Homo sapiens: one gene and its partners. The protein of the gene in region 1 purifies or fractionates together with the protein of each later gene. This does not show direct contact. Each region holds a gene or a part of one and is shown in the gene's direction. Other genes may lie near its edges.

What was found. Proteins that work in one complex are often made in the same cells at the same time.
Region 2: the proteins of MYH1 (region 1) and BAZ1B purify together in Homo sapiens (co-immunoprecipitation; one study listed by IntAct). This does not show direct contact.
Region 3: the proteins of MYH1 (region 1) and ACTR3B purify together in Homo sapiens (co-immunoprecipitation; one large-scale study listed by IntAct). This does not show direct contact.

What each region holds. Positions count from the first base shown.
Region 1 is NC_000017.11:10,490,996-10,495,679, reverse strand, and holds the end of MYH1 (myosin-1), read left to right. Parts: intron 1-362; coding exon 363-488; intron 489-578; coding exon 579-749; intron 750-1,006; coding exon 1,007-1,111; intron 1,112-1,230; coding exon 1,231-1,326; intron 1,327-3,111; coding exon 3,112-3,264; 3' UTR 3,265-3,373; downstream 3,374-4,684. UniProt on the Homo sapiens protein: Required for normal hearing. It plays a role in cochlear amplification of auditory stimuli, likely through the positive regulation of prestin (SLC26A5) activity and outer hair cell (OHC) electromotility.
Region 2 is NC_000007.14:73,469,342-73,473,829, reverse strand, and holds part of BAZ1B (tyrosine-protein kinase BAZ1B), read left to right. Parts: intron 1-3,346; coding exon 3,347-3,485; intron 3,486-4,179; coding exon 4,180-4,313; intron 4,314-4,488. UniProt on the Homo sapiens protein: Atypical tyrosine-protein kinase that plays a central role in chromatin remodeling and acts as a transcription regulator. Involved in DNA damage response by phosphorylating 'Tyr-142' of histone H2AX (H2AXY142ph).
Region 3 is NC_000007.14:152,846,716-152,851,203, forward strand, and holds part of ACTR3B (actin-related protein 3B), read left to right. Parts: intron 1-4,488. UniProt on the Homo sapiens protein: Plays a role in the organization of the actin cytoskeleton.

The sequences.
Region 1 (4,684 bases):
ACGCCATTCTCCTGCCTCAGCCTCCGGAGTACCTGGGACTACAGGCGCCCGCCACCACGCCCGGCTAATTTTTTGTATTTTTAGTGGAGACGGGGTTTCACCGTGTTAGCCAGGATGGTCTTGATCTCCTGATCTCGTAATCCACCCGCCTCGGCCTCCCAAAGTGCTGGGATTACAAGCATGAGCCACCGCGCCCGGCCAGTTGATTGTCTTTTAAACATATGTCAACTCAGATAATTTATGAAACAAGGAGGAATATTAATGAATTCATTTAGTTAATTAGTTTATGGTTCATTAGAACATGAGGTTTCCTAATTTTTCTCTCATGTGCCTAATATTTCTAAATTTCACATTTTAAACAGAACACCAGCCTGATCAACACCAAGAAGAAGCTGGAGACAGACATTTCCCAAATCCAGGGAGAGATGGAAGACATCATCCAGGAAGCCCGCAATGCAGAAGAGAAGGCCAAGAAGGCCATCACTGATGTGAGTGAAGGGTAACACAGTGGTGGTCAAACTTAAATCTTAATGTGCTGTCTTAGCTGTCTTAACCCATTCTGTTTTACTGCTAATTAGGCTGCCATGATGGCTGAGGAGCTGAAGAAGGAACAGGACACCAGCGCCCATCTGGAGCGGATGAAGAAGAACCTGGAACAGACGGTGAAGGACCTGCAGCATCGTCTGGATGAGGCTGAGCAGCTGGCCCTGAAGGGTGGGAAGAAGCAGATCCAGAAACTGGAGGCCAGGGTGGGTCTCCTAATCAGCATGTATTTCTATCTCATTCCAATCCAACACACGATTCTGAATACCTAGCACTGCTAGATGATGTGGGGCATACTGAGATGAGGGAGAGCTATTCCCTCATGCCCAAAAGCTCATAATAAGGAAAACTGAACTAGGGCATTAAAAACTACATATAAAGCAGAGTAGAAGAAGTATGTGGGTCATGTGAAGAAGTAGAAATTCGTCAAATGAATGTCCTTAAAATGTCCATCTTCTTGTAGGTTCGTGAACTTGAAGGTGAAGTTGAAAGTGAACAGAAGCGCAATGTTGAAGCTGTCAAGGGTCTACGCAAACATGAGAGAAAAGTGAAGGAACTCACTTACCAAGTAAGGAAAATGGCCTGTCTAGGTTTTCACTTTAGTCCACATGGGATTAAAAGTCATATGTATGACAAAATGTAATATTTGTACTTTCAAGAAACTTACTCTTGAAAACATTATTTCAGACTGAGGAAGACCGCAAGAATATTCTCAGGCTCCAGGACCTGGTGGACAAACTGCAAGCAAAGGTGAAATCCTACAAGAGACAAGCTGAAGAAGCGGTGAGTTCACAACCCCTTGGGGTGATTTTTCTCAGACATGACCAGGCCAGTTTAGTTAAAGTGACAAAAGAAAAGATGAGTAAAATGAGGAAGGATCAAAAGAAAACAAATGGCTACATGGAGGTCCAAGGCTGAGGTAAAACCAACCACCTGACAAGCCAGCAGAAGATGTTCTAGAGATGGGGAAGAGCAAATGCAAAGCTTTTGAGTGGGAAAGAGTCTGGCTCAAGAAGCAGACAAAAAAAGGAGGAAAGCACCACAACTGGGACTGGAGAGCCAGGCAGGAGGCAGCTCATAGGGTCTTCCAGGCCATGGTAAGAACAATAAGGTACTGGGAAGCCAGGGAGGGTTTTAATGTGGGTCAGTCACTACCTGATCTATATTTTTTAAAAAGAGCATTTGGGATACTATGTAAAGAATCGGTTACTGGGTAACACAAGTGGGTGCAGAGAGACATGTTAGGAAGCTTTTCAGGTCGGTTCTGTGGCTTGGATAAGAGAGTGGAGCAGAGAGAAGTGGAGAAATTCAGGACATATTTTGGAGGTAGAAACTACAAGATTGCTAATAGGTTGCACTTGGGAGATGAAAGAAAGGCAATTAAGAGTAATTTATCAAGTTTATGGTTTGAGTAACCAAGTGGATGATGTAACACTTAAGTGGGGAACAAAGGGAAGAACAGAATTGCAGGGCAAGAAAGAAACAGGAATTCTGTTTTAGATACATAATACCATATATACACAAGTGAACATGTCAAGTAAATAGTTAAATATAAGATTCTGAAACTCAGAAGGTCTTGGTTATGTTCAAATCAGTAGATTCTTAACACTCCACTTTATCTCATTTCCGTATCCCATGATTCATCTGGATTAATAATCAAATAGTTTCAACTTCCTACATATAAATATTCATAGTTACATATCACAAATGAGTTCCTCTGTTCATTGATGGTTTTTATTTTACCCCTGACATCTAAGGTAAGAGAGAGAGAAAGATGGGAATGGAGGGGAATGAGGGAGGGAGAGAAAACAAACACACTTGTGTGCACGGACACACACACACGCTACTGTCCATACCTCGGACAAATTGCTTAATCTTTCTCCAGTTCCTACTTTCCTCATCTGTAAGAGGAAAAGCTGAGGTTTTTTCTCAAGCTATACTATTTAATGATTCTAAGCTTTATGTCTGTTCTAAATTTGAATGCCACATTTTGGAGGTTCTTACTGAGACTTTTAAATAAGAATGATTACCAGAGACTAAACTAGAACTGACCTGCTCAAATTCTCTGCTATATATTTAAGTATAATCAGAGACAGCTCAGACTATTTTAGGAAACAAACTTCTTGCTTAATTTCTAAACTTAAGTGGCAATAATTTATACTCACATGGCAATAACTTATATTCAAGCTTAATGGTTTGGTTTGGTATAGATTGCATACTTGCACTCTTAAAAGGTTTGGTTCCATTCTCAGGATTCTGAAAAAAACAAACAAACAAACAAAAAAAAAAACAAAGCTGGACACCTGGCATATTTAGTAGTAGCTCTAGGATGTTCTGCTGTTCTAAAAGTTCAGATACAAAGGTCACCTGTCCTTCCTTGTTATCTATGAGTTCAAGAAGCTAATGCAAAAATAAAAAAAAATAAAAATTCAAGAGCATTTCTCTAGGTTTCTTAAAATATCTGCTAGAGTGAATCATTTTTAAGTAAAAAGGAAATTCAAGATCCACTGACCTAAGAATGGAAAAATTCTGAACTTTCTTCCCTCATAAATGGATTTCCATTCACAGGAGGAACAATCCAACGTCAACCTCTCCAAATTCCGCAGGATCCAGCACGAGCTGGAGGAGGCCGAGGAACGGGCTGACATTGCTGAGTCCCAGGTCAACAAGCTGAGGGTGAAGAGCAGGGAGGTTCACACAAAAATCATAAGTGAAGAGTAATTTATCTAACTGCTGAAAGGTGACCAAAGAAATGCACAAAATGTGAAAATCTTTGTCACTCCATTTTGTACTTATGACTTTTGGAGATAAAAAATTTATCTGCCAAAAACTTGTGAGTCTCTTTTTCCCCTCTATGTCAATTTGTCTTTAGAAGTACTGAGAAAAGAAAAACATCTCAACATTTTGGTTACATTTTACAGAAAAGTGCTTAGTCACCAATATTAAGACATGATAGAGAGCAGCTAGGCAGACCCGGTAAGTGCCACCATATGCGTCCCTATAGGAAGTAGGTGAACCTAAAGGTATACCACAAGCCATAAAACATAGAATATTTGGTAAACCTTACTTGACAAAACATAGCTAGTTTCTGTCAATGAAATTATTGATTTTCTTCATAAAATGATAGGAAATCCTTCATCCTAAGGCTGAGTAAAAATAAATTAAAACATGTTATTTACATAAAATGAGAAAAATTTAAAAATTAGATTAAAGTACTGTCAAAAATATTTAAAATGCAAACTCTTCACTATAACTATATGAACCATTTAATTGGGATTAGAATCCCTTGAGAGGGAAGCATGTTCTGTAGGTTTTCTGGCCCTTTGTAAATACAAGAGATTTTTAGTTTTTTGTTATCTACAGATGTTTAGTTTGCTGGATTGTGCCCCCTCCTTGGTTATCACAATCAAATGGTAACCAAGAGTTAAAAATTGTTAAGAAATATGTTTCTATTATGTCTTCTATCTCTTTGGCTACTTCTGTATTTTACAAGGATTTCTTCCTTGTAAGTATATTGATAGCAATAGGTCACTTCATATTTTTTAAAGTCACTACCCTACTCTCATTACTTTATATTTAGATGTCTGTATTGTGCCTTTCTACAGTGCTATGGCAATTATTGTCATCATTGTTGTAACCATGGTATTACTACTACAGGTTTACCTGTACTGAGGGTAGCATGGGCCTTCCACCTATGTCAATTTTTCATACAACATGAGCAAGTAAAATAGCAAGTATCTCATCCATTAAAGACATAACAAAGGTCTTGGAGAATAGTAACCAGTCTACTTAAAAGGAACAATATACAATTAAATGTTTCTAATCTTATGATCCAGTAGGTTAAAATATCCAGTCATACATCTCTGGACCTCAGTTCCTGGGGAAGATTCTCTCTGGGTCATTATGCACCTCCACTTATTTTCTATTGATTACTGGAAACAACTCGCTATTGTAATGCTATATCTTGGGTTGGACTTTAAAATAATTTTAATAGACTTTAATATCCAGTTTTCTCCCAAAGTTTATATCCTAATATTCGAATTACACATTGCCATTTCCTTTGGTTATTCACAATGAGAAAAACGATAAATAAATGGGCATATGTTAAGCAAAGAGTCAGGAAAAGATGGAAGGATCTGAT
Region 2 (4,488 bases), on another chromosome or scaffold:
AGCACGCCTGGCTAATCTTTTTATTATTTGTGGAGGCTGGTATTGAACCCCTAAACTCAAGCAATCTTCCTGCTTCAGCCTCCTAAAGTGCTGGGATTACAGGCCTGAGCCACCAAACCCCGGCTTGAATAGTTCTTTCATTAGAAAATGTATATTCCTTTTAAAACAAATTTTAGTTTACACTACTTAAGGCCATTGAAATATTTTTGCATATGTATGCATACTGTGCCTGAGTATACATATGTAATGTGTACTTTCCATTTTATTTATTTTTTTGGATACAGAGCGTCGCTCTGTCGCTCAGGCTGGAGTGCAATGGTGCGATCTGGCTCACTGCAACCTCCACCTCCCAGGTTCAAGCTATTCTCGTGCCTCAGCCTCCTGAGTAGCTGGGATAACAAGGCATCTGCTACCACACTCAGCTAATTTTTGTATTTTTAGTAGAGATGGGGATTCACCATGTTGGTTAGGCTGGTCCCAAAACTCTGACCTCAAATGAACTGCCTGCCTCAACTTGCCAAATTGCTGGGATTAAAGGCATGAGCCACCGCCCCTGGCCATTGTATTAACATTTTAAAGACATATGAACAGGCCAGGCTCGGTGGCTCACAGCCTGTAATCCTACACTTCGGGAGGCTGAGGCAGGCAGATCACGAGGTCAGGAGATCAAGACCATTCTGGCCAACACGGTGAAACCCTGTCTCTACTAAAAATACAAAAATTAGCCTGGCATGGTGGCGCATGCCTGTAATCCCAGCTACTCAGGATGCTGAGGCAGGAGAATTGCTTGAACCAGGGAGTCTGAGGTTGCAGTGAGCCAAGATCGGCCACCGTACTCCAGCCTGGGGGACAGAGCGAGACTCTTGTCTTTTTTAAAAAAAAAAAAAGATCAGCTGGGTGTGGTGGTGCCTGTAATTCCAGCTACTCGGCCTATAATTCCAGCTACTCGGGAAGCTGAGACAGGATAATCGCTTGAACCAGGGAGTTGGAGGTTGCAGAGAGCCGAGATCACACCACTGCACTCCAGCCTGATGATAGAGCGAGACTCCATCTCAAAATAAATAAATAAATAAATAAATAAATAAATTAGCTGGCTGTGGTGGCACACGCCTGTAATCCCAGCTACTTGGGAGGCTGCGGCAGGAGAATCGCTTGAACCTGGGAGGCAGAGGTTGCAGTGAGCCGAGATCATGCCGTTGCACTCCAGACTGGGTGACAGGGTGAGACTCCGTCTCAAAACAAAACAATACCTATCAAGAAAGTATAACTGCGGCCGGGCGCAGTGGCTCAACACCTACAATCCCAGCACTTGGGGAGGCTGAGGTGGGCGGATCACCTGAGGTTGGGAGTTCAAGACCAGCCTGACCAACATGAAGAAACCTTGTCTCTACTAAAAATACAAAATTAGCCGGGCGTGGTGACACATGCCTGTAATCCCAGCTACTCGGTAGACTGAGGCAGGAGAATCACTTGAACCCGGCAGGCGGAGGTTGCGGTGAGGCGAGATCATACCATTGCACTCCAGCCTGGACAACACGAGAGAAACTCTGTCTCAAAAAAAAGAAAAAAAAAAAAAGTATAACTGTGTTCCAGATGAAGCAGAATGTAGGTTAAAACCTTCAGCTCTATTTTATCTGAAACGTAATAATTTCTTCTTGCATTTTTGGACTGCTCCACTGTGTTTTATATTTATCTTAAGAGAAGGAAAAGAAGATGATACTCTGTTATTTGTATGGAAACAAGAGACAGAATATTAGTGTTTTACCAAGATCAGTATTTGGATTAGAGTTCAGGTCTTTGGATAACTAGTTCAGTGCTGTAACCTCTGAGACAGAATTTGGTCTTCCTTTGGTGACTTGTCCTAAGTTGGTTTATGTTTGTTTGTAGTCTTGGGAGACTGAACTTTTCCTTGATTGTAATTGGGCCATCACTCACTCTCTCGCTTTTTTTTTTTTTTAATCATTTACCTTTGTGCTATTTTCTACTATAACCATTGTTACAAATACACAGTTTCACTTGGGCTAGAAAACTGTTTATCAAAGGTAACAAATTCCATGTTTTAAATAAATGGAATTTATCTTAAGTTTTTAAAGTAACATCTTTAGACAGATGCATTTTCCAGATTTACATCTTATTGTAGATGTTATTGTCAATAGACAATCAGGGTTAAAAATTATTGGGGCTGAGTGCAGTGGCTCACATCTCTAATCCCAGCATTTTGAGAGGCCGAGGCAGGAGGATCGCTTGAGCCCAGAAGTTTGAGACCAGCTTGGGCAAACATAGTAAGACCCTATCTCTAAAAAAATAATAAACACTTCTTAAAAATTGTGACATTGTAAATAGCATTGCCATGTACCCTATGGTGTCAAGGTTTGTGACAATTATGGAAAAACTTAACAAAATTAGCGGGCTGCTTTTGTTGAGGGAAATTTCTAACTGAATAAACCTAATTAATGAATGATCAGAAATAAAATTTTTATCATTAACAGTAACTTGCAGAATAATTAGAAAAATAGGTGTTCAATGTAAAATAATTATTATCCACAAGTGCGTCCCTGCTGTTGCTTTTCAGGTTTGTTTTCTTGTCATCAGGGCTATTAAGCCAAATTACTGTCAGATTCCTCAGGACTGAAATATGTTTTATTTTGAAATAGTTATTTTACTAGTTTGATTTATCGTGATCTTTTTGAGGATCCTGTAGGTGCACCTGTCAGAAGATGTTTCAGTTAGTCCTATTTATGGACTGTTAACTGTTTCTTCAGGATTGTTTAAAATATATTAAGAAGTGATATTTTGGCTGGGTGTGGTGGCTCACGCCTATAATCCCAGCACTTTGAGGGGCCGAGACGGGTGGATCAGTTGAGGTCAGGAGTTCGAGACCAGCCTGGACAACATGGGGAAACCCCGTCTCTACTAAAAATGTAAAAATTAGCTGGACACGGTGGTGTGTGCCTGTAGTCCAGCGACACAGGAGGCTGAGGCGGGAGAATTGCTTGAACCCAGGAGGCAGAGGTTGCAGTGAGCCGAGATCGCACCACTGCACTCCACCCTGGGTGACAGAGCAAGACTCTGCCTCAAAACAAAAACAAAAAGAAGTGATATTTTGGAGATAAAAGATTTTGCATTGAGTTGAGGGATGAGATGTCACCACAAATTCAAGGAGTGTAGGAGGACTAGATGTTGCTGCCTTACATGTAATTTCTTGTAACAGATTAGAATTAGAGAAAGCAAACTAAGATTTGATAACTACTGTATACTAGGCACTTTTTACTCCATATTTTATTTAATTTGTAAGAGTGGGATTTACTAGGAAAATATCTGATTTGAGTCTTTTTATTTTTAACAGTGAAACTGGAACGCCAAGCTGAAGAAGAACGAATACGGAAGCACAAAGCAGCTGCTGAGAAAGCTTTCCAGGAAGGGATTGCCAAGGCCAAACTAGTCATGCGCAGGACTCCTATTGGCACAGATCGAAACCATAATAGGTCAGTTCCTAAACCAAATTTTTGTTTTCTTTAGGACTATTTACATTGCTATTAGTTAGGAAAATTTTCTAAAGTACAAGAATAGACAAGCTTCTCTCTTCAGTTTTCCAATTCTTTTTGGAAACAGAATTGTTGATGATTATTGAATATTAACTGCCAAATGCTAGAGTTGCAAAGTTAAGTAAGACATATTCCTGCCCTTGCATATACCACAAGTAGGAAGCTTACATGATGGTGATAGGTGAAATGTAATCCAAGTCTTTAAAAATGGCAGTAGGTTTTAAATACATACATTTTGTGAAACCTAAAGGAGAAATATTAGTAGTTACACAAATTAGGGCTGGGCGTGGTGGTTCACACCTGTAATCCTACACTTTGGGAGGCTGAGTCGAGAGGATTGCTTGAGGCCAGGAGTTCAAGACCAGCCCGGCCAACATAGCGAGACCCCATTTCAATTTAAAAAAGAAAGAAATTATACAAATTACGAACATTAAGCTAGTCTCCAGTTTCAACATTTCTCGTATACTTTGATTTACCTTGCAATTTTTATCTGTCTAGAGTTCTGAAGAGGAAGAATTCTGTAAACTGTGGTTTTGAATGCTCAGTGATACTCTGTATTATCTTCTCCAGCAGTAAAATCATCCTGCAATCCTGATCTATTCACTGTCTTATTAATACTGGTTGTGATTTGTAGATACTGGCTCTTCTCAGATGAAGTTCCAGGATTATTCATTGAAAAAGGCTGGGTACATGACAGCATTGACTACCGATTCAACCATCACTGCAAAGACCACACAGTCTCTGGTGATGAGGATTACTGTCCTCGCAGTGAGTATATCTGTATATCTAAGAGTTATTTCACCCTGCTCAAGTGGGCTCAACATTAAGGACTGCTTTTCCTCTGTCACGTTTTCCATTTGCAGAATTTCTTTATTGTGGTCTTAGATCTATTTGAGTGAAGTAGGTAGATGTGAAATGTGTAGAAAGAAGGAGAGAAACCCAC
Region 3 (4,488 bases), on another chromosome or scaffold:
GTCTGCAGTGAGTTCTAGCGCCCGGGGCTGTAGTCTGCAGTGAGCTCTAGTGCCCGGGGCTGTAGTCTGTAGTGAGCTCTAGTGCCTGGGCTGTAGTCTGCAGTGAGCCCCAGTGTCTGGGCTGTAGTCTGCAGTGAGCTCTAGTGCCTGGGCTGCAGTCTGTAGTGAGCCCCAGCGCCCGGGCTGTAGTCTGCAGTGAGCTCTAGTGCCCGGGCTGTAGTCTGTAGTGAGCTCTAGTGCCTGGGCTGTAGTCTGCAGTGAGCCCCAGTGTCCGGGCTGCAGTCTGCAGTGAGCTCTAGTGCCCGGGCTGTAGTCTGCAGTGAGCTCTAGTGCCCGGGCTGTAGTCTGCAGTGAGCCCCAGTGTCCGGGCTGTAGTCTGCAGTGAGCCCCAGTGTCCGGGCTGTAGTCTGTAGTGAGCTCTAGTGCCCGGGGCTGCAGTCTGTAGTGAGCTCTAGTGCCCGGGCTGTAGTCTGTAGTGAGCCCCAGTGTCCGGGCTGTAGTCTGCAGTGAGCTCTAGTGCCCGGGGCTGCAGTCCGCTCCGCAGGGCTCACCGTGATGTTTTCTTCGCGTCTGTAGCTCAGTGTCTTTAACACAGCAACTGCCTGCTGAATGCAGTGGGATGTTTGCTGCCCATCACAGGGATGTTTAGGCTGTTGAAGTTTGTCCTTCAATTACTGAAGGAAGAAAGGAATTCAAAATGAGAACCCAGCATCCTTTCATAAACTCGTTGAACAATTAACTGTATTTTGCCTGAAGATCAGGCAGCTGGGCTTCAGCTCTCCTATTTGTCTGTCCTTAGAAACCCACACCCCTGCCCCCTCCTGCCTGCTTGCCTTTTAGTGTGGAAAATTTGAAACAGGCAGGAAAGTATATCCAATATACACGGATGAAGTAGCTGAAGGAATCTGGGTGAGGAGAAGTCAGGGCGGCAGAAGAGCGCAGCAGGGTCAGATGAGGACAGAGCCCGTGCACACAGTTCTGTGGTCGCACCTAGCTGTGGGAGAGGCCCCTCGTGGCTCTGAGCTGCTCAGCAGACACAGGGCCCCTGGGACATATGATTAAGGCCAGTGGGTTTTCCGAAGAGGCCCAGCTTTTTCTGACACTGAGACCTGAGAGAAATTTCTTCTTTAGACCCTCACTAGGAATACCTCCTTCACCCATCCCTACAGTGGATAATGATGCGCGTTTCTTCCCGCCGTGTCTTCTAATGGCTCGCGGTGCAAGTTCAGAGGGTGAACAGTCTTGTGAGTGAATACTGAAGGAATGCTGAGCAGACAGGGAGCACTCCCCTGGGACTTTTGGATCCAGTGATAGAATTTAGGAGACTTAGAGGTGTGAATGGACTATGTACCTCTCAGATTATCCTTCAGAATAACAATAGCTCAGAACGTGGAGATGAGGCAGCAGGTGTGCCCACGGTGCTGTGTTGGCCATTGGGTGTTACAGTAAGAAGCAGACCCGCGTCTTCGACAGTCGTCTTGGGAAGGATGAGCTCACCAAGTCTGGGGTGACAGTCAGGGAACCTGGCCCTGTGGCCCCTCTCCTACACTGCGGTGGGCCAAGGGACAGCTCTCAGACACCCCAGGCTTCCTTGGGGCACTGTTTGGGATCCCCTGACATATGGGCTGTTAGGAGACCAAGGCTGCAGCATTCCCTGCCAGAGAGCGAGGCTGGAGGAATCTTAGCCTGGAAAAGTTTTAAAGGAGTTGTCTGTGGTGGGCTTTAAAAAAGCAAATGAAAAACAATAGCAAAAGAACAAAAAAACAAACCCCAAAACCTCAGCAAAAGCGCCCTTAGAAATGTCTAATTCCAAGCACTGACCCATCCTTGTTCTTCCCCAGTCCTCACTTAATTCTTAATTGGATATAAGCCAGGGTCTGTCTCTCCAGAATATCATCGGCCAGCGTGGCCAATCATGAGAGAGCAGGACCAGGGGTCAGTTGAGGCTTATTCTAAGATGAGATGATCAAAATACCAACATGCTTTTAAGTTATGATTCTTGATATTATGGTAACTAGGTATGCAGTGTGTCTGAAAGAGTCACCAGGCCACAAGACCCATCTGAAGGAAGCCAGGGATCAGAATATAACCCTGTTTACGTGATTTCCAGCTGCCACCCCCCCGTAGCTGCAGCTGTGGTTGATGGTCCCTAGACTCTGACAGGAGCCAGGCGCTCTCAGGTTGGTCATGAGAGATTTCTCCACAGGGTCACAGAGGACAACAGTGATTATTCATGATGCTGATCCTGGGGCAGGATGTTGGCTTGAAAACTAGACTTAAAATGGGTCAAGAAGGCAGGTGCCCAGTGACCTCATGGTCTCCCTGTGGCGAGGGGCGTCAGGGGGCTGCCTCTCGAGAAATGGACGTGACAGCGGTTTCCTTGGTTGGCCACGCCGACAGAGTTTTGAGAAAGCAAACAAGTACATAGCAGTGAAACCCCCAGATGAGGACAGACTGCAGAGTTCTCAGGGCAGAAGACCATTGCCAGGTATTTTATTCAGTGTGTTCATGATCAGATAGTCCCCGTAAGGCATGGGTACCCTTTAGGGGGTCTGCTATGCTCAGGGCTGTTCCCTGTGAGTAGAAGTGTGGGGCCGACACCAAGGAACGGGGTGGGGTGGGGGTTCCGGAGGATCGCTTCACTGCTGCAGAGAGCCCTGAAGGGTGGCCTCAGAACCGCCCTGGTTCCCAGCCCTGAAGGCCAAGCCCAGATCCTCCCTTAACAATATATTAGCCTTGACCTTGAAGCTGATAACAAAATATTGTGGCACAGTTTTGTGAGGCTCTGTCCCTGGCCAAGCCACTGTAGAAGGTTTAGCCCAGGGGTGTCCAACCTTTTGGTGTCCCTGGGCCAGAAACTCTTGGGCCACACATAAAATACACTAGCACTAATGACAGTTGACAAGCTAATAAAAAGGTCCTGTGCATAATGTTTTTGGTATTCACCACTGTGGATAAGCAAAACACTTGTTGCAGTGAAAGGGTTGGACATGGCTTCTTTAGCCCCTGACAGTCTTTCACCTTAGCAACTGGAGCAGCTACAGCATGTTACATGATTTATCTAACATCTGCTGCTGGCAGGTAATCAGAGGTGAAATTTCTCTATACAGACACTCGGTAGAATTGGAGCAGATCCCAGGTGGAAGACGAGGTCACTGGTGGCTTCTCCAGGTGAAAGGCCAGATCCCTGGTGGCTTCTCCAGGTGGAAGACCAGGTCACTGGTGGCACTCCCAGGTGGAAGGCCAGATCACTGGTCACTTCTCCAGGTGGAAGGCCAGCTTCTTCAGGTGGAAGGCCAGATCACTGGTCGCTTCTCCAGGTGGAAGGCCAGCTTCTCCAGGTAGAAGGTCAGATCACTGGTGGCTTCTCCAGGTAGAAGGTCAGATCACTGGTCACTTCTCCAGGTAGAAGGCCAGATCTCTGGTCACTTCTCCAGGTGGAAGGCCAGCTTCTCCAGGTGGAAGACCAGATCACTGGTGGCTTCTCCAGGTAGAAGTTCAGATCACTGGTGGCTTCTCCAGATAGAAGTTCAGATCACTGGTGGCTTCTCCAGGTAGAAGTTCAGATCACTGGTGGCTTCTCCAGGTAGAAGGCCAGATCACTGGTCACTTCTCCAGGTGGAAGGCCAGCTTCTCCAGGTGGAAGGCCAGATCACTGGTGGCTTCTCCAGGTAGAAGTTCAGATCACTGGTGGCTTCTCCAGGTAGGAGGCCAGATCACTGGTGGCTTCTCCAGGTAGAAGGCCAGATCACTGGTCACTTCTCCAGGTAGAAGGCCAGATCACTGTGGCTTCCCCAAATGGAAGGCCGGATCACTGGTGGCTTCCTGTGGCTTCTGCCCCGTTTCATTCTTCCTGCTCTGACTTCACCATCTCTAATCCTGAGTCCACGTGGGTGCTGTCACAGCAGTTCTAGGAGCTGGCATGAGAGAAAAATGATCCCTTTGTAGTCAGTCCTGGCTGTCTTTCCCCAGAACAGCAGTAAGCAGGAACAGACTACTCTCATATCATATAACTTAGAACCTGGGTTGCTAGGGACAGAAAAGTGCATTTTTTTTTCCGTGCTGATTCCCTGTGACTTCTGCTTACCTGTAAACTTGTTGAGGGACTCACTGTTCACACACTCAGAGCTGACTGGGAGGAGTGCCTGAAAGCAGAGAGCTCTGTAGTTGCTCAGGAACTCGGGAAGAGCTAACATATTTAGAGGGTCTTAAAGGAAATAGGGCTTTTTGACTCCTTGAAGGATTAATTTCCTTATGTAGTTTTCACATAAGGTGTTTTCTCTAAGAAAGTTCAATCAGGAGATACACTAGTCCCCCTTGTCAGTGAGGATATGATTCAAGACCTCCAGTGGGTGCCTGAAACTGCAAATAGTACCGAATCCTATATATACTGTGTTTTTTCTTGTACATACATACCTATGATAAAGTTTAATTTAGAAATTAGGCACAGTAAGAGACTTCTGAACAGCAGTAACTACTAAAGTAGAA